Linked DNA regions of Homo sapiens. The protein of the gene in region 5 interacts with the protein of the main gene of each other region in a pairwise test. Each region holds a gene or a part of one and is shown on either strand. Other genes may lie near its edges. The genes, in order: KASH5, NOTCH2NLA, RTN4, HSD17B11, LRCH4, CA8 and CYB5R3.

Region 1 (3,121 bases), on a different chromosome or scaffold from region 5:
GAAGCCTGAGCCAGGCCAGGGCCCTAGGGATGGAGGAAAAGGGACAGACAGACATAATTGGGGTGGAGGGACAGAGCAGGGGTCAGACGGGATGTGGGTGATGGGGAGGGAGGAAAGGAGGCAAGACTTGGAACTTGTGACCTTGTGAGGTGAAATCTTGAGGGATGTCTGGGGGCTGCCTGGAAGAGTTGGGTGCACCATCCTGGAGCTCGAGGATTGCGTTTAGAAAACAATGGCAAGTTGGTTGCTGAGGTCAAGGGCAATGCCAATATGTCTCTGGAGAAACCGAGAGGTACTTGGGTCCTGAGGGAGAGCAGATAGATCCAGCCCAAGTCTGGGAACCTGGGATGAGAAGGCGGTTGGACAGGGAAATGCTGATCTCCTCTGGGACCCAGATAAGTGTACGAGATCTGTGGAACATCCAGGAAGTTTAGGCAACCGGGACTCCTGGGTCCTGTCAGGGAAGGGGGCTTGGTGGCATCGAGAACAACCCTTTGGTTTTTGGCTTCTGCCCTTAGGGGGCTAATAGGGCCATCCTCATGTAGGGCAGCACGAGAGGAGGGCAGGTTGTAGAAGGTGGTGAATTCATGTGTAGGTTGCAGCCTGGAAGACCTTTTGTATATGGGGTCTGGGACCGGCGGGGGAGACAGTGGGCACTGTTAGGGTTGGAGCTTTGAGTGAGAAGAATCAGAGAAGAACTAACCTTTTTGTTTCCACAGAGAAACTTCCAGGGAGAGCCAGCGCACCCTGAAGAAGGAAGGAAGGAGCCATCCATGTGGTAAGGAGCTGAGCCATCCGTCTGCCTCAGGGTGACACCTTATTCACAGCTGTTTACAGTAGGAGGACTGGATGTGCCCTGAGGGGATCGGCATTCATTCATTCACTCCTTCTTCATGTCTTCCGGGAGCAGAACCTGGGCCTGTAGGCCAGGAGATGAGGCCTGGCCCTGCCCTCAGGTCTAGGAGGAGATCTGGTTCCTGACCCTGCCTTGGGGGAGGGCTCCCAGCGAGGCTGCCATGCCTGAATGGGGTGAGGGGGGGCCTCTGGAATCAGCGTGGATTCAGATTCCAGCTCAGGTACTTTGCAGTCAGGCTGGTGTAAGCATTTGGTTGTATGCCGTGAAGTCCCAGCCCTGTGATTGGGATGTGATTGTTAGGAGGCTGTGTCCAGGCCTCTGAGGATGGAGAACGCACTAGATGACTGGGCCCACCCTCCTCCGGGGCCCTGGCCTTCGGGCCTCTGGTTTCCTGTGTTGCTTCCCTCTCCCCCTCCCCTCTTTCAGGCTCCCAGCTGCGGCTACTAATGAGGCTGCCTGCCAAGGCCTCTAATTGGACTTGTCTGGGAAGAGCTGAGATTGGGCGGGATGGGAGCTCTGGAGCTATGACCTCCCTCTGCGTCACCAGAGAAAGGAGGGGAGAAGGGGCTGAGCAGTAGTGGAAGTGGGGGAGGCAGGTGCCATGCGAGTTTCCAGAGGTCAGGGGCAGTTTGATCCGCAGGTTGGAAAGCTGGGAGTGAGGAAGGTGGTGAATACAACGGCTCCTAAATGTAGCCAGCTGTGAGGGCTTGGACCTTGAGAGGGGTTGGGTCCCAAGTAGAAGTTTCAGGGGATCAGATAGTGTATGTCTGACTGGGGCCTAAGAGCCTGGATCCTTTATCGCGTGGGAGCACAGCTGTATTCCTGAGGGTATCTCTGAGGGTTTTGGGTCTGAAGCTGGTGGTGGTGGCAACTGCAGGGCTGGATCTCTGGTCCCCAGTGAAGGCAGTGGCTGGTGGTATGGATGGCTGGGTCTCTAAGGGGCATTCAGGCTGGGCAGCTTGAGGCCTGAGTCCCCAAAGCAGCATTTCAGGGACTCAGATGGCTGTGACCCTAGGAGGGGCCTCCCTAGGAGCCTCCCGCCGAGGCAGGGTCAGGAGCCAGATCTCCTCCTAGACCGAGACTCGCTGAGGGAAGGGTCAGGTCTCATCTCCTGGCCTACAGGCCCAGGGTCTACTCCCGGAAGATGGGAATGAATGAGGGGCATGCTAACCCCTCAGGGCTCTTCCAGTCCTCCTGGAAGAGGGTCTTGCACCTAAGAGGATTCGGCATGGGGAAGAGCTCCAACAGTTGAGTTCTGTGGGCTGGGAGGTCTGAGTTGGAGTCCCAGTCCTCAGAGAGCACCCAGTGACAGTCATTGAAAAATGGCTCAACCCACTAGACAGGAAGGGGGTTTCGACACGTGCTCTGGGGTCTTACAGAGGCCTGAATCTCTGGTATTTTGGAGGGTGAGAGAGCCAGAAGCCTCAGTTCCCAGCTGGGGGATCTGCTGGGGAAGTAGTGGCTGAGAAAACCAATCTGAGATGAAGAGGCCCCCTTATTCTTTTAGTGGTTCACAGACCCTTTGGGTAATTTGGTGAAAATTCCTGTGAAAAATACATATGCAGGACACCCCCCAGGCCCGTCCGTGCTGCCTGGCCTCCCCCAGGCCCGTCCGTGCTGCCTGGCCTCCCCCAGGCCCGTCCGTGCTGCCTGGCCTCCCCCAGGCCCGTCCGTGCTGCCTGGCCTCCCCCAGGCCCGTCCGTGCTGCCTGGCCTCCCCCAGGCCCGTCCGTGCTGCCTGGCCTGTGCTAAGACCCCCTGCTCCAAGGCTTCTCTCCCAGCCCATAGTAGGCAAAGGGAACCAGGGAGAAGAGGACGAAGCCAGCAGTGACTTTGTTGGCCCTCAGGTTGACCAGAAGAGAGGAAGAGGAGGATGCAGAGAGCCAGGTCACGGTAGGCAGTCCCCAGCACCCCTCCCCAGTCCCCATCCACTCCACACCCACAGAGGCTGAGTCGTTTCAACTCTTCCCAAGCCCCAGCCTCACACTCCAACTCCTCAGGAGCAGAGAGAAAAATCATTTGGCCAAGAGATAACAAGGCCTTTGCTGTAGCTAATGAGAGCGATGGTGAGGTGGGGGGAGGCCTGGAGGCTAGTGGGCGGCCAGGCTGCTCCCAGGGGACCCTCCCAGCCACACACACAGGGCTGCAGCCACCACACCGCAGGCCTCATAGACGTGGCTACACCCCCGGATTGCATAAATGCACACGCACATGCGCCCACACTCGGGAGAGGTTGGGCCGGCCCTCCCCAGCCAGCCTCAGAACT
Region 2 (3,500 bases), on a different chromosome or scaffold from region 5:
AATCCTATGAAGTAGGCACTGTTATTACATCTCTTTTACGACAGGGAAGTTTAGTACCTTGCCCAAGACTACACATTGAGTAAATGGTGGAGTTGGGATTGAAATCCAGGTGGTCTGGTTCCAGAGTCTGTACTCTTAAGAGCAGAACAATAATAACTCCAAGCATTTATTAAATTCTCAAGATTTATCCGGCACCATGCTACATGCTTGTATTCAAGCAGAGGCTGGTGATCATCTTTTAGAAATATTTTAGAAATGATTACTTAATTGGATAGAAATTAAATTTCTTGAATCTGAAGGTTCTGTTATTCCAAGGATGGCTGGAAATGGGGGAAAAGCCAGCAACAAGATGATGTCTGGCCTGAGGCTTTTAAGATGATCAGAATTTGTATCAAAAAGGAAACTGTGAACACGAATGATAAGTATTATAGGAATTCAGTTAACAAGTCTTGTCAGAATGTGGTAATAAATTATATACAACTTAAAGAGATGAAGTTACTTTAAATTGTGTGTGGAAGCCTTAGAAAAATTGAATAATTAAAGTTTCTTGGGAAGATGATCTCCTTTTACAAATGTTTAGTTTCAAATAGTGGCAGCACATATTAGGATAGAGAGATGACTTCTAGAAAACTGAACATATGGGACTGGAACAGTGTATTTTGGAGTCAGTTACAGGAAGGAAGTTGTTTAAAACCAAGTGAACAACAACAGTAACAAATGCATTTGAGAGAAAGAGCAGTGCAGTCCAGACTTAAACATTAGGGTGGCCATAATAGATGGGGAAGAAGGAGAAATCAGCAATCCAGACTAAGACTTCACTGGGTTTTGAGTTAGACAGAGGGAGGCATAGAAGCCAAGGTAAAATGATTAAAACGGTACATGGAGTGGTTAGCAATTCTCCCTATAGGAGAGAGAATTTCCTTATGAAGTTTCAGATGAGACCACTGAACTTGACTAGAGGAAAGTCATTGTTTTTAGAAAACAGTTTCTAAACAATAATTAGAATTAAAGTTTTGTTGCAGAGGGATAAGTAAGAAGTAGATGGAAAAGAAAGAGGAATATCTGAAATTAGGCTACAGTCATAGAAGGTTAGCTGTGAAACAATAATTTGGAAAGGGAAATGGGACCTCATGAAAGTGTGGGTTAAAAGAGACTTGTATATCTTCTAAGGTAAAAGTAAAGAACTAAGCTGATGTCCAGCCCTCTAAAACATTTTAAATAGAAATCAAACTTTATTAATACAGTAGGTCTAGTTTCACGTAAAGCAAATATATGGTTCTGTACACGGGCTTTAGGAGAGTAAGTCTGTTGTACCTCATATGTAAGTATTATCCCATTTAGAGGAAAACCCTAAGTCTTTCTTTACAGTGGCTTAAAGGCCCCAATTGATCCACATCCCAGTTACAGCTCTCATCTATTTTCTGCTGCTCCAGATATTCTTGCTGTTTCTCAAACACGCTAGGGCTGCTCTCTGTGTTATGGCCTTTGCATTTGCTGTTCCCTTTCTCATGAATGTGTTTTCCTAAGATACCTGCATGATTACTCTCACCTTATTTAGGTCTCAACTCAAGTATTGTCAGTGAAGGTCTTCTCTGATTTTCCTATTCTAAACTGAGATACTTCTCTTTGCTCACCCCACACCCTCATCCCCAGCTCCATTCCTTCCTGTTTAATTTTTTTTCACAGCACTTAACTCCATCTATTGTGCATCTTTTACTTAGTAATTTTGTTTTCGTCTTCCGCTATTAGAATGTAAACTCCAAGAGTGTAAGAATTTTTCTAGCACTGGAAAAATGCCTGGCACATAATAGGCATTTACTAATTGTTGTGTGAATGAACGATTATAAGTTTAATATTCTTTGTGGAAACTAATAAGGTTGATTTCCTATCAGAAACCGATCATTATTAATAAGCATATTGGATGGTATTTATAGAATTAGCCTTCATATGTTCTCTACTCAGAAGTTGGCAAACTTTTTCTGTAAAGTGCCAGAGAGTAATTATTTTTGCAGGCTTTGTGGTCTCATTACAGCTACTTGACTCTGTTGTTGTAGTGGAAAATCAGCCATAGACAATCTATAAATGAATGAGCATGGCTGTGTTCCAGTAAGACTATTTATGGACACTGAAATTTGAATTGTATATAATTTTGAAATGTCAGAAAATATCCTTCTTTTGTTCTTTTTTTCTAATCATTTAAAAATGTAAAAAACTATTCACAGGCCAAACAAAAACAGGCAGTGGTCCAAATTAGACTTGCAAACTGTACTTTGTCAATCTCTGGTTTTACTGATTTCTTAAATATATCTTAGGTTAAAACTTATTTTTCCATACTTGATAGGGAGCAACAATGTGAATTAAACTGTAGAAACAAATAATTCAGAAATACATCTGTTTAGCTTTAGAAACTTCCATTTTGCTTCATTTTTGTTTTCCTGGGAACCTTATATTTCCATTATATGTTTATGATGCTACCATTTAAATGACTTTGCATTCTCTTAGCATATGCCACATGATAGTGTTAGGGTGGTGTAATAGTTCAGGAGCAAAGCTGAGCAAAGCCCACCCACGTTTAAAAATTTGCCATTATTTAGAAGGTGCATAATTCCCATATGGGAGAATGAAGAGTCATCTAATAATGCCCAGAGGGCTGCACTGTGAGTGAGAATTGTGTTGCAGTTTTTAACATTCATAACACATTTCTTGAATAAGCTGCAAATGCTTTTAATAATATATCTCAGAGTTAATTTTAGCTATGCTACATTGGCACTTTTTGCTCCTCCACTTCAAAAAACCAACACAAGAAACTATTCTCAAATCAAGCTGTGATTTGGATGGGGCATTGTATTTTCCTCAATAAGCACAAAGAAGAGAGAAAAGATGTTTTCACTTGGCAAAACTTTTTTTTTTGAGATGGAATCTCACTCTGTTGCCCAGGCTGGAGTGTAGTGGCACAATCTCGTCGGCTCACTGCAACCTCCGCCTCCCGGGTTCAAGCAATTCTCATGCCTCAGCCTCCCGAGTAGCTGGGATTACAAGCGTGCACCACCACCCTGGCTAATTTTTGTATTTTTAGTAGAGCCAGGGTTTCACCTTGTTGGCCGGGCTATTCTCAAACTCCTGACCTCAGATGGTCCTCACACCTCAGCCTCCCAAAGTGCTGGAATTACAGGTGTGAGCCACTGTGCCCAGCCCACTTGCAAAACTTTTTAACATTTATAAGGTTTTTTACATACTTGATTTTGTTCAGTTCTTAGAATAATCTCATGATGTAGGTGACCTTATTAACTATTTACAATGTGAGAAAATGGATAGTCAATGAAGATAAGTAACTTGTCCAAGGTCACAGCACCAGAACTCCAAACCAGACCTTCTGACCTTCTTGATACAGACTCCTCACAGTCACCTGCATGCCATCTTTGGTTTCAGTGCTATGAACTTTCTTCACTGCCTGTTGGTCTGTAGCTACACCTACTCATGAAGATGCCCAGAGCCTTAGC
Region 3 (3,500 bases), on a different chromosome or scaffold from region 5:
ATGCATGTGCGGGAGAGCAGGGTGTGTGTGTGTGTGTGTGTGTGTGTGTGTGTGTTGGATGTTGAATTTAGAATTTCAGAGGAATAGCAGTTCAGGTTGATTATAATGGCCAGTGTTAGGCCATCAGGCAAAGGCCTACTGTGTAGTCAGATTAAGATTGCTAGAGGTGAGGTCAAGTAAACTATGAGGCCATGATACTGTATTGCACTTCTACCTAACATTGAAGTCACCCAGGGTGATGGCAGGACTAGGGGTGGAGAGGAATACTGGGGTTAGAGTCCTTGGTAAAGGGCAGTGAGGTAACTGGCAGGATGGTAGGTAGAAGAAATGAGGAAGGACAGAGAATGACGTAGCGGAATAGCCAAGACTTTTGCCCAAGGTCTCTGAAATAAAAGTCTGGAAGCAGCATTGGTGAGCAGAGGGTACTGACCTCCCCACTCCTCCCTTAGGTGTGTAGAATATGAGAGAACGATTTAGCCTTCATTTAGCAAGTTCCACAGGGAAACCAGTATCTTCAAGGAACAGCCAGGTTTTAGTGAAGGCGAGGTAAAGGCAGGAATGTTCAGTAAAGATGTTGAGGAGTAGAGGAGCTGGTTCACAGTGGAATGGGGGTTTCAAACAGCACAGTAAAATGGTTTAGGAGGGAACAGTAGAAAGAAGGGTCTCAGAAGCCCAGAGCAGCTTGGTGATGACTGGGTGAAGAGCAAGGAGTAATCGGTGTAGCAACACCTTTGAAGTCTCCCCTCCCCGCTAGTGCTTCCTCCCAAAACTTAAAGCTAGCAGTCCTCTAGTAGATGGTGGCCCTTAGGAATTTCAGTATTTCAGGAGTCACCTATTTCTTGGATTGTTTTTGTTAAACCTGGGAAATCTATAGCCTAATAGTTTAGAAGTAAGGGAAGAAAAGGGGGCATTGCCTTTGAAAGCTTAATGGGAATGGTGGAAGAAAGTGTAAGCAATGCTTGGGCATTCTCTTTTAGAATATGTTTATCTCCCTTCTCTGAGAAAATTGTTATTTCCTGCCTTTTTGACTTAACCTTTTTTGATATTAGTTATCATAGCAACTTACTAGGGAATAGAGAATTATTTAGATACACCCAATATATATATTCTACAAAAGTTGTGGGAAGGAAACCCAGTATTGCTATAATGAAAACAATATAGGTGACCTGAGGTTTTAGTCTTGGCTATACCACTGACAATCACTTTGTTTCTCTAGATGTCATTTTCCTTTTCTATAAAAGGAAGGGTGGATTAGCTCAAGTCCTTGCAACTTAATAATTTTCTTGACTTGATTATATAACAGGCATCTGTTAAAAGCAGGTAAGTAGTGGCCAGTCACAATGGCTTACGCCTGTAATCCCAGCTTTCAGGGAGGGAGAGGTGGGAGGATAGCTTGAGCCCAGGAGTTCGAGACCTGCCTGGGCAATATAGTGAGACTCCGTTCTCCACAAAAAAGGGAGAAAAAAAAGACAAAAAAAAAAAAAAGTGTAAAAGCAGGTAAGAGTTGCTTTAACATGCTTCTATCAGGCACTATATGAGATTTTTTTTTGGCGGGGGGGGCAGGGAAAAAGATGAAACTAAGACAAAGTTTTGCGCTTTATGCAACTTACAGCCAGCTGGTACAGACACACTGTTGAGGACATAGTTAAACATTGTGATCTATGTTATAGTGAGGATAGGTACTTACCTGTGTATCTTCGTGAAAGGGAGGTTCAAGTGTACTGAAGTCAAATGTACCAAAATACAGCAGTGGTCTGATAAAACATAAGGGAAGCTCTCTTCTCAGATGACTTAAAAGTTTTATGCCATCTCTAATTATGAAATATTTAAGTGTGTTTTTAAAAAAATTCTGGGTCTTATTAATGTATATGCATTTAAACATTTAAACTATTAAATAATAAAATACTAATTTCCTCAGATCATTTATTATCTCATATGTTCTTCTTTTCTTTTTTCGAGACAGGTTCTTGCTGTGTCGCCCAGGCTGAAGTGCAGTGGTGAGATTATGGCTCACTGCAGCCTCAACCTCCCAGGGTCAGGTGGTCCTCAGCCTCCCAAGTAGCTGGGACCAAAGGCTCGTGTCACTATGCCTGGCTAATTATTTTTGTAGAGAGGAGGTCTTGCCTTGTTGCCTAGGCTGGTCTCAAACTCCTGTGTTCAAGGATCCTCCCGCCTCTGCCTCCCAAAGTGCTGGGATTACAGGTGTGAGCCTCCAGGACTTTCCTGTTCTTGTTTTCTTAAAATGACATTTTGTAGGCAGAAATCAGTTTTAGTTTTGGGAAGAAAGATTGATTTTGCAAGAGAGATGAATAAGGTATTGTGATGCAGATGGTGCTTTATTAATTTTGGGAAGTAAAGTTTGTCAAGAAACTAATGAATTCTGGTCTTCCTCCCCCTCCATTTACAAAGAAATTTGTGACAAACTATATTCTTACTATTGGAATGTAAATACTGATTTTTTTTCTCAGTAGTAGTATCAATGAATGTTCTTGGCATTTCCCCAATGAATGTTCTTGGCATTTTTTTTTTTCCAAAAATTGATTGGCTATAGATATGTTAATTAATTTCTGGGTTATCTGTTCTGTTCCATTGGTCTGTGTTTCTGTTTTTATGCCAGTACCATGCTGTTTTGGTTACTATAGCTGTGTAGTATATTTTGAAATTTAGTAGTGTGATTCCGCCAGCTTTATTTTTGTTCAGGATTGCTTTTGCTTTTTGGAGTCTTGTGGTTCCATACAGATTTTAGGATTTTTTTTCCTATTCCTGTGAAGAAGGTCATTGGTATTTTATTAGGGATTGCATTGAATCTGTAGACTGCTTTGGATATTACGGCCATTTTTTAACAATGTTAACTCTTATGATTCATGAACATGGAATGTCTTTCTTTGCATTTGTTTGTATCCTCTTCAATTTCTTTCATCATTGTTTTGTAGATTTCCTCGTAGAAGTCTTTCACCTCCTTGGTTAAACTTATTCTGAGGTATTTTTTTTTAAGCTATTGCAAATGGAGTTTCCTACTTGATTTCTTTTTCAGCTAGTTTGTTGTTTGTGTAAAGACATGCGATATTTTTGTTATTGATTTTATATCCTGCAACTTTACAGAATTTACAAGTTTTTGGTAGTCTTTAGGTTTTTCTTTATATAAGATCATGTCATCTGCAAACAGGGACAATGTGACTTCCTCTTTTCTAATTTGGATATCCTTTATTTCTCTCTTGCTCAATTGCTCTGGGTAGGACTTCCCATTTCAGTCTTTATTTATTTGTTATGACATTAGCAGTTTTAAAGAACACAGGGCCTCTCTTCCCCCGACTTTATAATAGAACATTCCTCCTAGTGGATTTGTCCGATGTTTCCTAGTGATTAATTTGAGGCTATGGGTTCATTTATGATACTGTATAGATGATGATGTGTCCCTCTCATAGCACCACTTCTAGAGTTATCTGCTATTCATCAGTCCCTCACTGGTTATGTTAATTTTGACCGTCTGGGCAAGATGA
Region 4 (3,500 bases), on a different chromosome or scaffold from region 5:
CTAGATTGTTTTTTTTTTTTTTGGTGTGACTACTAGAAAGATTAAAATTATATACATGGCTTGCGTTATATTTCTATGAGACAGTACCGGTGTAGAGATTTAAAGGGCTGGAGCTACAGATGATAAAATTTCCTGTATTTTGGCTTTTTACTCTGGGGAGTCAATGAAGGGTTTTGAGGGTAATTCCTATTGAAGAGGATCCTCCAGCTGCTGGGCTTAGGAGAGATGTAAGAGGAGAAAAGATGGAAGGAACAAGTAAAGTAAGAGACTACTGTGATAATCCAGGCATGAGATGAAATGATGGGGACTATTGAACCGGGTTGGCAGTAGCAGAGATTCGGAGTAATGGTCAGAAAAATTGAGGACAATGTAGTGAGTTTTTATTAGGTTAAATTAGTTTAATTTAAATAATCTATATTTTATTTTGAGATTATATCCTTCCTACTTTTTGTGGGTAAAAAATATATTTGTTAATGAAATTACATGATAACATATGAGGGTCATTTTGTTAGTTTTGAGTGTCCTTATTTGGCCAAAAGTTTGGCAATCCTAGTTCGGTATACACATCCCACTCTATTTTTCTTGCCGTTTTATAGATTTGAAATTATAGAAGGCTGAGAACCACTAAACCTGATTGGGAAAGGACAGGGTGGGGATTTGGAGCAGTCCAGGTAGCAGAAACTGGAGATGTGAAGCTCTTGGGCTGGTGAATACCTGGAGAATGAGGAAGAAAGTGGAGTGGTGTTTGATTGTTATGAGATCTAGCTGGCAGGGCAGGGAGGGGCCAAACGGAGGGCCCTTTCACCTAGAGTACAAAGACAATCTCTTAGATTCATCCATGTAATGAGGACAGCAGTGTCCACATGTACCATATGTTAATTTAGGGAAGAATTAATGGTGGTGTCAGCTTTGTTGTTCCACTAAGCCTGATAATGGGAATTATTCATTCTGCTTTGTGATAATCTATCACTTCTTGACTATTCTCATTCCCATGCTTGGTTAGAATAGTTTGTAGCCAGGCATGGTGGCATGCTTCAGTAGCCCCAGCTACTCAGGAGGCTGAAGCAGCAAGATTGCTTGAGGCCGGGAGTTCTGGACTGTGGTGCGCTCTGCATGTCTGCATAAGTTCAGAATCAATATGGTACCTTCTGGCGGTGGGCATGAAGGAGACCAAGTTGTCTAAGGAGGGGTGAACCAGCCAGGTTGGAAACGGAACAGGTCAGAGCTCTGGTGCTGTTCAGTAGTGGGATCATGCCTGTGAATAGCCACTGCACTCAACCTGCGCAACAGGGAGACCCTTTTTCCTAAAATACTAGTTTGGAAAGAAAAATTTACAGTAAGTGGTGAGCATATAATATATGCTCAAAGACTATTTGTTGAATGAAAAACTGAATTAATGAATAACTGAAAGAATAATGGGCATAATTTAAAAAGTTTTTCAATTTTTAGTAATCAAGGTAATGGGTGTAAAGGTCTTAGTTGTACCAATAGACAAACATATTTGAAAAAAGTTACCAAGGGAAATCTTGAAGAGTTATGAGCAATTGTACTGTGCTGCAAAACATTTTAAAGGAAGAATTCATTTTTTTTTTGAAGATCTGCTTATTTTTTATTTCTTACCAACTATCTACAGGGCACTGTCCGGAATTTTTTCTGGAGGAATTTAGAACTTAAATTTGTTGCACCGGCCGGGTGCAGTGGCTCACCCCTGTAATCCCAGCACTTTGGGAGGCCGAGATGGGAGGATCACTTGAGGCCAGGGGTTCAAGGCCAGCCTGGGCAACATGGTGAAACCCCGTTTCTCCTAAAAATATAAAAATTAGACGGGTGTGGTGGCGCATGCCTGTAATCCCAGCTACTAGGGAGGCTGAGGCAGGAGAATCACTTGAACCGGGAAGGCAGAGGCTACAGTGAGCTAAGATTGCACCATTGCACTCCAGGCTGGGTGACAGAGCGAGACTCCATCTCAGAAAAAAAAAAAAAAGTTTCACAATTCAGAAGGTGTGGAAAGCAGACCAACCTAAATGAGGAAGACCAAGGAAACAGGGCAAAAGTGAGACAGCGGATGTGAAAGAAGGGTATCTTTGCATCCATATAGTGGAGTGGTGGTTAGTTGCTTGGTGGTTACAGAAAGCCAACCAGTAATAAGCAAATCTCTGAAAACAGAATAAATGGGACATAAATTTTTATTGTAAAATTTGTTCATGTAAGGAAATATATTTGTTCAAAAAAGAGAAGACCCAATCAATACAATATACTTTTTTTTTTTTTTTTGAGATAGAGTCTCGCACTGTTGCCCGGACTGGTGTGCGGTGGCAAAATCTTGGCTTGCTGCAACCTCTGCCTCCCGGATTCAAGTGATTCTCCTGCCTCAGCCTCCCAAGTAGCTAGGATTACAGGTGCCCACCACCACACCCAGCTAATTTTTTATATTTTTAGTAGAGGCAGGGTTTCACTATATTGGCCAGGCTATTCCCAGAATCCTGACCTTGTGATCTGCCCACCTCAGCCTCCCAAAGTGCTGGGATTACAGGTGTAAGCCACCGCACCTGGCCAATACAATATACTTTTAAAAAACTTTTTAAAATATGGTAAAATATATGACATAACACACCATTTTAACCATTTCTGAGTGTACAGTTTAGTGGCATTAAGTACATTTACCTTATTATGCAGTGATCTCTTCTATTTCTCTCCAGAAATTTTTCATCTTCCCAAGATGAAAATCTGTACCCATTAAAACAATATATCTCCCCAGCCCTCTCTCTCCCCAGGTCCTGGCAACAACCATTCTATTTTCTGTCTCTATGAATATGATACTCTGGGTACTGCATATAAGTACATTCATATGGTATTTGTTTTTTGTGTCTGGCTTATTTCATTTGGCATAATGAAGGTTGTACGTGTAGCATGTGTCAGAAATTCATTTCTTTTTAAGGCTGAATAATATTCTATCCTATGTGTATACAACATTAATATACTTGTAAAAGGAAATGCCAAAAGCTGCTGGTTAAGTATAGGAGAGCAAAATAAAGTTTACCTGAGATGTTGATGTCCCTTGAGGAATAAGAGTTCCTCATGAGAGTATACTACAGTTTGTGAGGGAGATTTCAGTAAAAGAAAAATATTGTGGGAACCTGCCCCCAATATTTCAATGTAGCTTCTTTCTATTTTCCATAAGTGTCAGCCGGCTGAGAAATAAAGAGAGACAGTATAAAGAGAAATTTTACAACTGGGCCGCTGGGGGTGACATCACGTATCATGATGCCCCTGAGCCTCAAAACCAGCAAGTTTTTATTAAGAGTTTCAAAAGGGGTGGGGGTGTAAGAACAGGGAGTAGGTACAAAGATCACATGCTTCAAAGGGCAAAAAGCAGAACTACTGATAAGGGTCTATGTTCAGTGGTGCACATATTGTCTTGATAAACATCTTAAACAACAGAAAACAGGGTTCGAGAGCAGAGAACCGGTCTGACCACAGATTTACCAGGGCAAAGTTTT
Region 5 (3,500 bases):
CATGGCGGCCCTAAGCACAGAATAAAACCCACAGCTCCCTAACCCAGCATGAGGAAGGCTTCCACAACCTGGCTCCACCCGCGTTTCCCACCTCACTGCCCACCCCTCCGGGCCCTCAGCTTCTGAGCCTTCCCAGGTGCTGTTTGCTCAGCTGGGAGAACTCCATTTTCCCCATCCATGCATCTTTCAAGGTTCAGCTCAAGCATCACCACCTCCTCGGTGGATCGTTCCAGACATCCCAGATTGGATGGAACTCATTGCTCTTGCCTCTGTCCCCAGGACATCTTGCTTGGATTTCTTTTTATGGCCCAGAGAGAGCCCTTCCTACCCCTTTTGACTGGGAAGGAAGAGGGCAGGTGCAGAAAGGGTCAGGGAGTAGGGAGACAGGGAAAGTGGATGACCACCTCACTCCCTCCTTGTTCTTCAAAACCAAGTTCACACTTGAGCATGGCACAGGCCTTCCTGCCATGCCTGGCTCACCTTCCTAACCCCATGCTTTGCACATGCTGGGTCCTCTGCCTGGATGCAGAAGGCTGGGGAATTCTCCTTCAATGTTCGGCTCCCACTGCGCCTGCGCCTCCGGTGAAGTCTTCCCCAGGACCCCCACGCAGAGTCCAGTGCCACCTCCCTCTAGCCCCCGTCTGGGGAACCCCCTGACGGAACTTCCCTATGACTGTCTCTCCTCAAGAAGCCATTAAATCCCTAAGAGATGGCCCCAGATCTTAGTCACATCACCCGCATCTACCTGATCCCAACACAGGAATCATACACACATCACACACACACACACACACACACACACACACACACACACACAAAACCCACACACACGCAAACAACATACATACACACAGACACAAACAACATGCACAACACACACATAAACATACACAACACATACACACAACCCACACAACACACACCCAAACACACACAACACATACAACACACACAACACAGACCTAAACACACACAACAGACATAAACACAAACACACACACAAAGACACACACAGACACAAACACACATACACATGCACAGACACACACGACATAACACAGACATAAACACAACACACACACAAACACAGACACACAAACATACACACGCACACACACGACATAAATAACACAGACATAAACACAACACACGAACAGACACAGACACACATACACATGCACATAGACACACATGCACAGACACACAGACACATGCACAGACACAACACACACATACACAAACACATACATACACACAGACACACACATGCACGCAGACACAAGACATAACACACACAGACACACACACATGCTGCTGCCTGCTGAACAAAAGGCATGCCTGCTTTGGGGCAGAGGCTATCAGTGCATCACAACAAGCACATTAGATGGGCCACCTGGGCTCTGGCACTGGCCCTGGCATCTCCGGGAGGAGTGGCGGAGCATCCCGACTCAGGTGTTTGAGAGCCCCTGCTGGGGTGAGCAGGGCTGCTGGGTGACCTTGAAGGCCCCTTCTGACCTTGCCAGTCTACCTAGAGCTGATGCACCCACCAGCTCCCCTTCTGTGCCTGTGTCCACGTTTCTAACACAGCTGCTCATCTGCGCCCTGCCAGCATCAGAGGGTTGCTAGGTCAAGATCAAATCAGATCGTTTACAGTTTGTTTTATATACTGCAAAAGCCTGGACAATGAAGGTGTAATTCTCCTCTGAAGATTCCTGGCCTGTAACTTCTTCAAAGCACATACACTGTTATGGACTGAAATGTGTCACCCAAAAAGTCCTCTGCTGAAATCCTAACCCCCAAAGTGATGGGATTAGGAAGCGAGGCCTTAGGGAAGTAATTGAGATCATGAGGGTGGAGCCCTCATCAGTGAGATTTGTGCTCCTTTATCAAAGAGGCCCCAGAGGGCTGTCTCTGCTCTCCGCCATCGGAGAGTACCACAAGGAGCCGGCAGTCTGCAGCCAGGAAAAGCACCCTGCCAGAAGCTGACCATGGAAGCACCCAGATCCTGAACTTCAGCTTCCAGAACTGTGAAAAATGAATGCCTGCCATGTATAAGCTACCCGGTCTGCAGTGTTTTCGTTACCGCAGCCTGAGCCAACTGGGACGCACATACAAACACCTCCTCTCCAGTTCTTCATTCTTCTCACCTTCGGGCAGCGTACTGAGCTGGTTCCTCCGGACATTGAGGTCCCGCAGGGAAGAGAGGCCACACAGTTCCGAGGGCAGGGATTGGAGCTCGTTGCTGCTCACGTCCTGGTATCAGGAAGGCAGTGGGAAGGGGCCATGAGACCAGGCCCAGCAGAACCCACCCTCCCATCTCTGTCTTTGCTCCAGGCCCTCCCCAACCTCCCCCTAGAAGGTCCCGCTGCCTGGCTCAGGGGTCCCTTTCCTGGTCCCGTCCCCATCCTCACAAGCTGTCGCAGGCTTCCCAGGGTGCCGATGTCAGGGGGCAGGGCTCCCAGCTTGTTGTTGCTGACGATGAGGACCCTCAGGGGCAGCTGGCAGATGTAGGGTGGCAGCAGCGACAGCTGGTTTCGGCTGTGGAAGGGAGAAAGGCAGCGGACTGGCTCCCCAGGCATGGCATCCCAGCACTGCCATCCTCTCGGGGTCACTGGGTGGGTCACTCAGTAGTACTTGAGACTGAGAAGCACACGCTCCCACGTGGCCCTGGCTCGGCCTCCCTACCTGAGGTTGAGGTAGGTGAGGGCTGTGAGATTCCCCAAGGCTGGGTTCAGGCATCTCAGGCAATTGTGGTAGAGGCTCAGGCCCTCCAGGGACACCAGCTGGCACGCCGCCTCGGGCACCTCGGGAAACCGGTTCCGGGACAGGTCTGGGGAAAAGGAGGTGTCGGGGAGAGTTGCGGAAAGGCCCAGCCCGGACAGGACCTTCAGTCCCCCCAGAGCCGGCTGCCCACTCCCTCACCTCCACACCTAAAGATTCAAGGCCATCAATGTGGCCTCCCAGGAGAGATAACAAAGCCTTCTGCCAACGGGAGCACATTCCAGGCGTGACCAGAATGGCACAGGGAAGGCAAAGGCCTTAGCGTCACTGGGCTAGAGAAGCCTCAGACTTGGGGGTTGGGGAATGTCAATGGAGGGCTATCCTGGAGAGCAGCTGGAATCTCTAACTCCTGTGGTTCCTGTTCAGAGATGCCAGGTGAGGCGGAGGACCGAAGGTGAGAGGAGGGGTCAGTGCTCATGGGAAAACAGTAAGGCGAGGGGCTGGGGGGCTCCCGGAGGGAAGATGGGAAACCCCTGGGGCAAACCACAGGGAGTGCCCATCCCTCCTCGGGGCCCTTCTTCCCTACTCCAGTGTGTTTTCAACACGGGAAAAACCACAGGTCACTCTATCTTGGTTCTAGAGATAAAGTCCCCGACACCGGACGAGTTTTTCGCCAGCCCCAAGGACCAGCAAGCCAGGTCCAAAGAATCATAAAGTTACTGATTCCCAAGGGCTGGGAGGGAAGGGCAAGAAGACCTGGTTGGAGATGGGAGCTGGAG
Region 6 (3,500 bases), on a different chromosome or scaffold from region 5:
GCAAAGTAGGAAACTGAAAACAGAAAAACAGATTTAAAGTTTTTAAAAGGAGCAGTTAAACCTCATCATGCATGGTCAGGCATGATGATGAGATCCCTGGCAGAAGATGAAGGAAATGTGGACTTGCTAAATGGTAATAGTCTCCTGTCTGTGCCAACAACCAGAAAGCTGGTGGCCAACTTGAGCCATCCCCAACCCCAAAACAAAAACACAAACAGGAAACAAGCATATTCCAGATAAACCAATATAAGCAACAAAGACTCCTCCAACAACATGGCCAGGTCCTTTCTTGATCATGGTACTGTGAAGCCCAACAGCCCTCAATCCCTGCCCAGGTGCACAGAGCTTCTGATCTGCTTCCTAGACTCATTCTTAAATAGGAACGAAGAGCCAAAGATCACTGGACTTTTGAGGAGAACCTCCGAAATAAAAGAGGGATGCCAATATAAATAGAAAAAGAAACCCAGAGTAAACAGAGACAGGTAGGGATAGAAAAGAAGCAATATAGAAAAGAATGAAGAAAGATCATACATTCATGAAATAAATACTGGATGTTGTATTTTTTTTAAAAAAAAAGGTTTTTAATTGCAGCGTAAGTTCAATGTTTTAGAAATTAAAAACAAGAAAGCAGAAAGTAAGAGTTCAATCAAAAGACTAAACGATTAAAAATTGAGGAAATCTACTAGAAAGTAGAAGAGAAAGGGAAGAAGAAAGTGGGAGTTACCAAAAGAGGAGGAAAAAATAAAAATACAAAATTTATCAATGAAATAATATAAGAAATATAAGAAAATTGCTGGTAAATAAAAGACACAATTATCTTGACTGGAAAAACCTACCAAGTGCCCAGCATATAGTGCAGAAACAATCCCACCAAGGCATATGGTTGTAACATTTCAAAACAACAGTAGTAAAGAAAACACTGTAAAAGGTTCCAGAAAGGAAAAAAGAGAAGAGACACATAGAGGGGGTTGAGAAGCAGAACGGCGCTAGATCTTTCAACTGCAACGCTGGAAGCTTCAAGCAATGTAATCATGATGTCAAACATCAAACGAAGTCAAGAATACTTCCAACCCAGACTGCCGCTCCAGGCTAACTCCAATCAAGTGTGAAGTATAATAAAGACACTTACAGACACATAGGCATCCAAGCATGTAGCCCTCACTTGCCCCTTTTCTCAGGAAGTTCCTGGAAGATGAACTGTACAAGCAAATAAACCAAGAAATTCCCTGAGATGACGGAGCAACTCAAAAAAGAGGATGGCACGGCATCCAGAAAACATTCGATCTAACACAGGAGACAAACGAGGGGACTTCCACGGCATCCAGGAAACATCCGATCTAACACAGGAGACAAACAAGGGGACTTCCCAGGCTTGAGGTCCAAGGAGCTGCGAGAAGAGGCTGTTAGGAGAGGCCTGGAGAGCAGAAAAGAAAAGCAGCCTCCACAGGAAAAAGAAAGGACAAGGAGGAGCGAGGGAGGGAAGACAACCTGATGCACGCTAATGTCCTAAGAGAAGATCCGTCATATGTTAGAGAGTTTGCAAATTAATTACCGACAGATAAAAAATTCAATTAACAAAAATGCATTAACTCCAGGAAAATACAAAACACTGTTTAAGTGAGACAAAATATAATCTCAGCTGGAAACAACAGTTGCAGTTGTAATAATAAAAATAATGAGTATTAATTTAAATAAAAATTAATTTAAGTAGACTCCAGGGGAATGAGGCATGAGAAATTACATAATGGATACAATGTACACTATTTGGGTGACAGTTACACTAAAAGCCCGGACTCCACCACTATGCAATATATCCAAGAAACAAAACCGCACTTGTACCCCCTAAATGTATACAGATTTTTAAAATTAATTTAAGTATACAGCGATAATACGAGAGTGAAATCATAAGAAAGAGGGCAATAAGAAAACTGGCCTCGTCCAGGTGCTGTGGCTCATACCTGTAATCCCAGCACTTTGGGAGGCCGAGGTGGGCGGATCACCTGAGGTCAGGAGTTTGAGACCAGCCTGACCAACATGGTGAAACCTCGTCTCTACTAAAAATACAAAAATTAGCTTGGTGTGGTGGCGGGCGCCTGTAATCCCAGCTACTTGGGGAGGCTGAGGCAAGAGAATCACTTGAACCTGGGAGGTGGAGATTGCAGTGAGTCAAGACGCACCATTGCACTCCAGCCTAGGCGACAGAGCGAGACTCTGTCTCAAAAGAAAAAAAAAAAAAGGAAAGAAAATTGGCCTCGTCTTCAATAGTAGAGAGTTCATACATAGCTTACTACCAAAGCATAACAGCATTATTATATTCTTACATTCTTGGAGGTAACCACAGGAGAAACAGCTAGAAAGTTTCAAAGTAGTTGTTACTAGGGAACAGCAGCCGTAGGTGGGGAAGAGCAGGGGATAACCACAGGCAGAAAGAACCACAGGCAGAAAGAGTATTATTCACCTTTTTTTTTTTGAGACGGAGTTTTGCTTTTGTCGCCCAGGCTGGAGAGCAATGGCGCAATCTCGGCTCACTGCAACCTCCGCCTCCCAGGTTCAAGTGATTCTCCTGCCTCAACGCCCCAAGTAGCTGGGATTACAGGCGTGTGCCACCATGCCCAGCTAATTTTTGGATTTTTTAGTAGAGATGGGGTTTCACCATGTTGGTCAGGCTGGTGTCGAACTCCTGACCTCCACTGATCCACCCACCTCAGCCTCCCAAAGTGCTGGGATTACACTTGTGAGCCATCACACCCAGCCTATTCAACTATTTTGTATATATTCTATTTTGATAAAGATAAAACATTATTTAAATAAGCGAATGACAGGGTATATAGAGCTTACAAATGGTTCCTCTGAGGAGCTTAAATATCCTAGGGGAAAAAACAACTACTCAAGACATGGTTATTTTGGTTACTTTTCTTGAGTTTGCAGAAATATTGGAAGGGAAAGAACAATAAGGAGGAAATTATTACCATGACAGAGAGGATAAGGGGAATCTGAAGGAGGAAGGTCTCCAGGGAGGCAGGAAAAAAGGGTTCTGGATCATGAGTATCCAAATCAGGCCTAGACAGAAGTGCAGACACTTCTTCTTCAGTGGGCAGGGGTGGAAGAAGGAGGAAGAGAAAAGCACAAAATGCTAGGTGAGGAAGAAACACACTTCATGGTGAGAGGGCCCAGATGTTGGTCCATAGTCTCTGTTTTAGAGTGAGGCAGAAGATTAAAGAAAATTGTGTTTGAGAAGGTAGCAGAAGAAAATGGTAAGTTCAAATTGATGAAGTAAATTTTATCTCAGAGCAGGACTAGGCACACACAGATGCAGTGGAGTATATGTGCTTAGTCATTGCTCTCTGCTCCCACAACCCTTTGTAACACTTGCCACATCAAGTGTACACTAGTACTTTAAAGAACTGGCTTTTCACTAGGCTATGAATCCTCAAGAACTGTCTTATAAATTTATATGCAACCAATATTGATCATGGCACCTGACATGAAATGTATTTTTG
Region 7 (3,500 bases), on a different chromosome or scaffold from region 5:
ATCCTCTCCCTCTTTTGCCTTGCCCCCAGTAAAGGCTGCTTCCATCGGTCACTTGCCCTCTTCAGAGCCCCTCCCTTGCTCTATTTCTGGCCACCCCCAGCAGGCACAGGAGGGGTGTGGCAGGGAAAACTGAGTCACAGCAGAGAACATCATCTGCCAGGGCCCAAGTCTCCACCCTGGGCTTGTGCCTGGTGCCTCTGACTCAGGCTTCACAGGAATCTCAGGCTTCCATGGCACGGAGCTGGCCGTTTCCTGTAACTGTTGGGGCAAGTGTCTGTAATTGTCCCAGGAGCTCACAGAGAAGTTGACAACCAGAGAGAAGCAAAAAAATACAAAATGAAAAGTAAATTATTGGCCAGGCACGGTGGCTCATGCCTGTAATCCCAGCACTTTGGGAGGCCGAGGCCGGTGGATCACCTGAGGTCAGGAGTTCAAGACCAGCCTGGCCGACATGGTGAAACCCCATCTCTACTAACAATACGAAAATTAGGCCAGGCGTGGTGGCTCACACCTGTAATCTCAGCACTTTGGGAGGCCGAGGAGGGCAGATCATGAGGTCAGGAGATCGAGACCATCCTGGCTAACACGGTGAAACTCTGTCTCTACTAAAAATACAAAAAATTGGCCGGGCGTGGCTGGGCTCACACCTGTAATCCCAGCACTTTGGGAGGCTGAGACAGGCGGATCACAAGGTCAGGAGATTGAGACCATCCCGGTAACACGGTGAAACCCTATCTCTACTAAAAATACAAAAAATTAGCCAGGCGTGGTGGCAGGCACCTGTAGTCCCAGCCGCTGGCGAGGCTGAGGCAGGAGAATGACGTGAACCTGGGAGGCGGAGCTTGCAGTGAGCCGAGATTGCGCCACTGCACTCCAGCCTGGGTGACAGCAAGACTCCGTCTCAAAAAAAAAAAAAAAAAATTAGCTGGGCGTGGTGGCAGGCACCTGTAGTCCCAGCTACTCCAGAGGCTGAAGCAGGAGAATGGCGTGAACCTGGGAGGTGGAGCTTGCAGTGAGCCGAGATCGTGTCACTGCACTCCAGCCTGGGCTACAGAGCAAGACGCTGTCTCAATCAATCAATCAATCAATCAATATGAAAATTAGCCGGGCGTGGTGGCAGATGCCTGTAATCCCAGCTACTCCAGAGGCTGAAGCAGGAGAATGGCGTGAACCTGGGAGGTGGAGCTTGCAGTGAGCCGAGATCGTGCCACTGCACTCCAGCCTGGGCTACAGAGCAAGACGCTGTCTCAATCAATCAATCAATCAATCAATATGAAAATTAGCCGGGCGTGGTGGCAGATGCCTGTAATCCCAGCTACTTGAGAGGCTGAGGCAGGAGAATCGCTTGAACCTGGGAGGCAGAGGTTGCAGTGAGCCAAGATCACACCATTGCACTCCAGCCTGGGTGACAAGAGCGAAACTCTGTTTCAAAAAAATAAAAAATAAAAAGCAAAAAAAAGTAAATCACCACCTCCCAGATGAGACCACACTTAACCTTGCGATATGATTTTTTGTTTGTTTGTTTGTTTTTGAGATGGAGTTTTGCTCTCGTTGCCCAGGCTATAGTGCAATGGTGTGATCTCGGCTCACTGCAACCTCTGCCTCCCAGGTTCAAGCGGTTCTCCTGCCTCAGCTTCCCAAGTAGCTAGGATTACAGGTGCCCACCACCACGCCCTGCTAATTTTTTTTTTTTTTGTATTTTTAGTAGAGTCAGGGTTTCAACATGTTGGCCAGGCTGGTCTCGAACTCCTGACCTCAGGTGATCCACCCGACTTGGCCTCTCAAAGTGCTCGAATTACAGGCGTGAGCCACCGTGCCTGGCCCTGTGATATGTTTTATACTTATGTAAGCAGGCACACATGTTTTTTTCTTACCCAAATGAAATAATAACATTTTGAAACCTGTTTTTTAACGGTATTTTCCCTTGTTATTGTTATTGGTGGGTTGTTTTGTTTTTGTTTGTGTTTTTTTAGAACAAGGTCTCGCTCTGTCACCCAGGCTGCTTTCTGCAACCTCAAACTCCTGGGCACAAGCCTTCTGAGTAGCTGGGACCATGTGCATGCACCACTATGCCTGGCTCTGTTACTGTCGTTCCTTTTTGTTGTTGTTGAGATGGACTTTCGCTCTTGTTGCCCAGGCTGGAGTGCAATGGCACAATCTCGACTCACCGCAACCTCCACTTCCCAGGTTCAAGTGATTCTTCTGCCTCAGCCTCCCAGGTAGCTGGGATTATAGGCATGCGACACCATGCCCAGCTAATTTTGTATTTTTAGTAGAGATGGGGTTTCTCCATGTTGGTCAGGCTGGTCTCGAACTTCGACCTCAGGTGATCCGCCCGCCTCGACCTCCCAAAGTGCTGGGATTACGGGCATGAGCCACCACGTCTGACCCTACTGTTTCTTAATTCCAGAAATAATGTATGATTTATATGTGCTCACAGCAAAAACTCTGTAAGGTATGACCTCCACCCCTGCCCCATTGCCGCATCCCAGGGCCCCGTGCAGAGGGCCCAGGTCACAGCTCAGCGTGAGCCTGCCAGACCCTATGTGGGTATCACGTTCATACACGGGTGTGTGGAGGTGCGGGTGTGTGCACACTCAGTTTCTTTTTTTGATAACCTGGTTTTGTAGCCAGCCATACAACATGGATCCTTTTAGTATTTCATCATAGGGATGTTACACAAGGGAGCATGTGGCAGATGTCCTAGGATTGCAGCTTTGCCCCCTCATTGTGCCCATGGTGGCTTTGCGGGGTCCGCAGCGGGCCTGCTCTGGGTGCTCTGTGCTTTGCCCCACCCTGCTGCCCTACTAGAGGTTGGCCAGCACCATAATTGTTCATCTCTTGTCCTCATTTCTATTCTTTTTTTTGAGACAGAGTTTCACTCTTGTTGCCCAGGCTGGAGTGCAATGGTGCGATCTCAGCTCACTGCAACCTTGCCTCCCAGGTTCAAGTGATTCTCCTGCCTCAGCCTCCTGAGTAGCTGGGATTACAGGCATGCGCCACCACGCCTGGCTAACATTGTAGTTTTAGTAGAGACGGGATTTCTCCATGTTGTTCAGACTGGTCTCGAACTTCCGACCTCAGATGATTCGCCCACCTCGGCCTCCCAAAGTGCTGGGATTACAGGCATGAGCCACCACGCCTGGCCATCTCATTTCTATTCTTCCTCCAAATATTTTCTGGTACATGGGTGTCTGACCTTGACCCTTAGGACCAGTTGATAGTCCTGGAATCCACTTCCAGAAGGCCTTGGGGCTCTGTTTGCCCCTAATGCAGAAGCTTCTGGTAGAGGCAGCTTTGAGGCCTGGGCTGCCTGGGAGAGGTTGGTGGGCCCCCTGCACACCTGATCCTGAGTGGCGTTTGCACCGTCTTTCCTGCGATTTGCCTCTGCTCACACGTGTAGGGACGGGTCTCTCCTTGAGGCAGCTGCTCTGTGCTGGAACACTGCTCAGGTCGGAGAGTTCTCGTACTGAGCCGAGATGGGCATCTGTGATGTCCTG

The links.
Region 1: the proteins of LRCH4 (region 5) and KASH5 interact in binary tests that used the Homo sapiens proteins (3 or more experiments, as listed by UniProt).
Region 2: the proteins of LRCH4 (region 5) and NOTCH2NLA interact in binary tests that used the Homo sapiens proteins (3 or more experiments, as listed by UniProt).
Region 3: the proteins of LRCH4 (region 5) and RTN4 interact in a two-hybrid assay, tested with the Homo sapiens proteins (one large-scale study listed by BioGRID and IntAct).
Region 4: the proteins of LRCH4 (region 5) and HSD17B11 interact in binary tests that used the Homo sapiens proteins (3 or more experiments, as listed by UniProt).
Region 6: the proteins of LRCH4 (region 5) and CA8 interact in a two-hybrid assay, tested with the Homo sapiens proteins (one large-scale study listed by BioGRID and IntAct).
Region 7: the proteins of LRCH4 (region 5) and CYB5R3 interact in binary tests that used the Homo sapiens proteins (3 or more experiments, as listed by UniProt).

What each region holds. Positions count from the first base shown.
Region 1 is NC_000019.10:49,412,249-49,415,369, forward strand, and holds part of KASH5 (protein KASH5), read left to right. Parts: intron 1-703; exon of another isoform or gene 704-719; coding exon 720-778; exon of another isoform or gene 779-856; intron 857-2,702; coding exon 2,703-2,748; intron 2,749-3,121. UniProt on the Homo sapiens protein: As a component of the LINC (LInker of Nucleoskeleton and Cytoskeleton) complex, involved in the connection between the nuclear lamina and the cytoskeleton.
Region 2 is NC_000001.11:146,166,522-146,170,021, reverse strand, and holds part of NOTCH2NLA (notch homolog 2 N-terminal-like protein A), read left to right. Parts: intron 1-3,500.
Region 3 is NC_000002.12:55,019,452-55,022,951, reverse strand, and holds part of RTN4 (reticulon-4), read left to right. Parts: intron 1-3,500. UniProt on the Homo sapiens protein: Required to induce the formation and stabilization of endoplasmic reticulum (ER) tubules. They regulate membrane morphogenesis in the ER by promoting tubular ER production.
Region 4 is NC_000004.12:87,384,689-87,388,188, reverse strand, and holds part of HSD17B11 (estradiol 17-beta-dehydrogenase 11 precursor), read left to right. Parts: intron 1-3,500. UniProt on the Homo sapiens protein: Can convert androstan-3-alpha,17-beta-diol (3-alpha-diol) to androsterone in vitro, suggesting that it may participate in androgen metabolism during steroidogenesis.
Region 5 is NC_000007.14:100,579,630-100,583,129, forward strand, and holds part of LRCH4 (leucine-rich repeat and calponin homology domain-containing protein 4), read right to left. Parts: intron 2,831-3,500; coding exon 2,686-2,830; intron 2,539-2,685; coding exon 2,412-2,538; intron 2,254-2,411; coding exon 2,148-2,253; intron 1-2,147. UniProt on the Homo sapiens protein: Accessory protein that regulates signaling by multiple TLRs, acting as a broad-spanning regulator of the innate immune response. In macrophages, binds LPS and promotes proper docking of LPS in lipid raft membrane. May be required for lipid raft maintenance.
Region 6 is NC_000008.11:60,274,901-60,278,400, forward strand, and holds part of CA8 (carbonic anhydrase-related protein), read right to left. Parts: intron 1-3,500. UniProt on the Homo sapiens protein: Does not have a carbonic anhydrase catalytic activity.
Region 7 is NC_000022.11:42,632,393-42,635,892, reverse strand, and holds part of CYB5R3 (NADH-cytochrome b5 reductase 3), read left to right. Parts: intron 1-3,500. UniProt on the Homo sapiens protein: Catalyzes the reduction of two molecules of cytochrome b5 using NADH as the electron donor.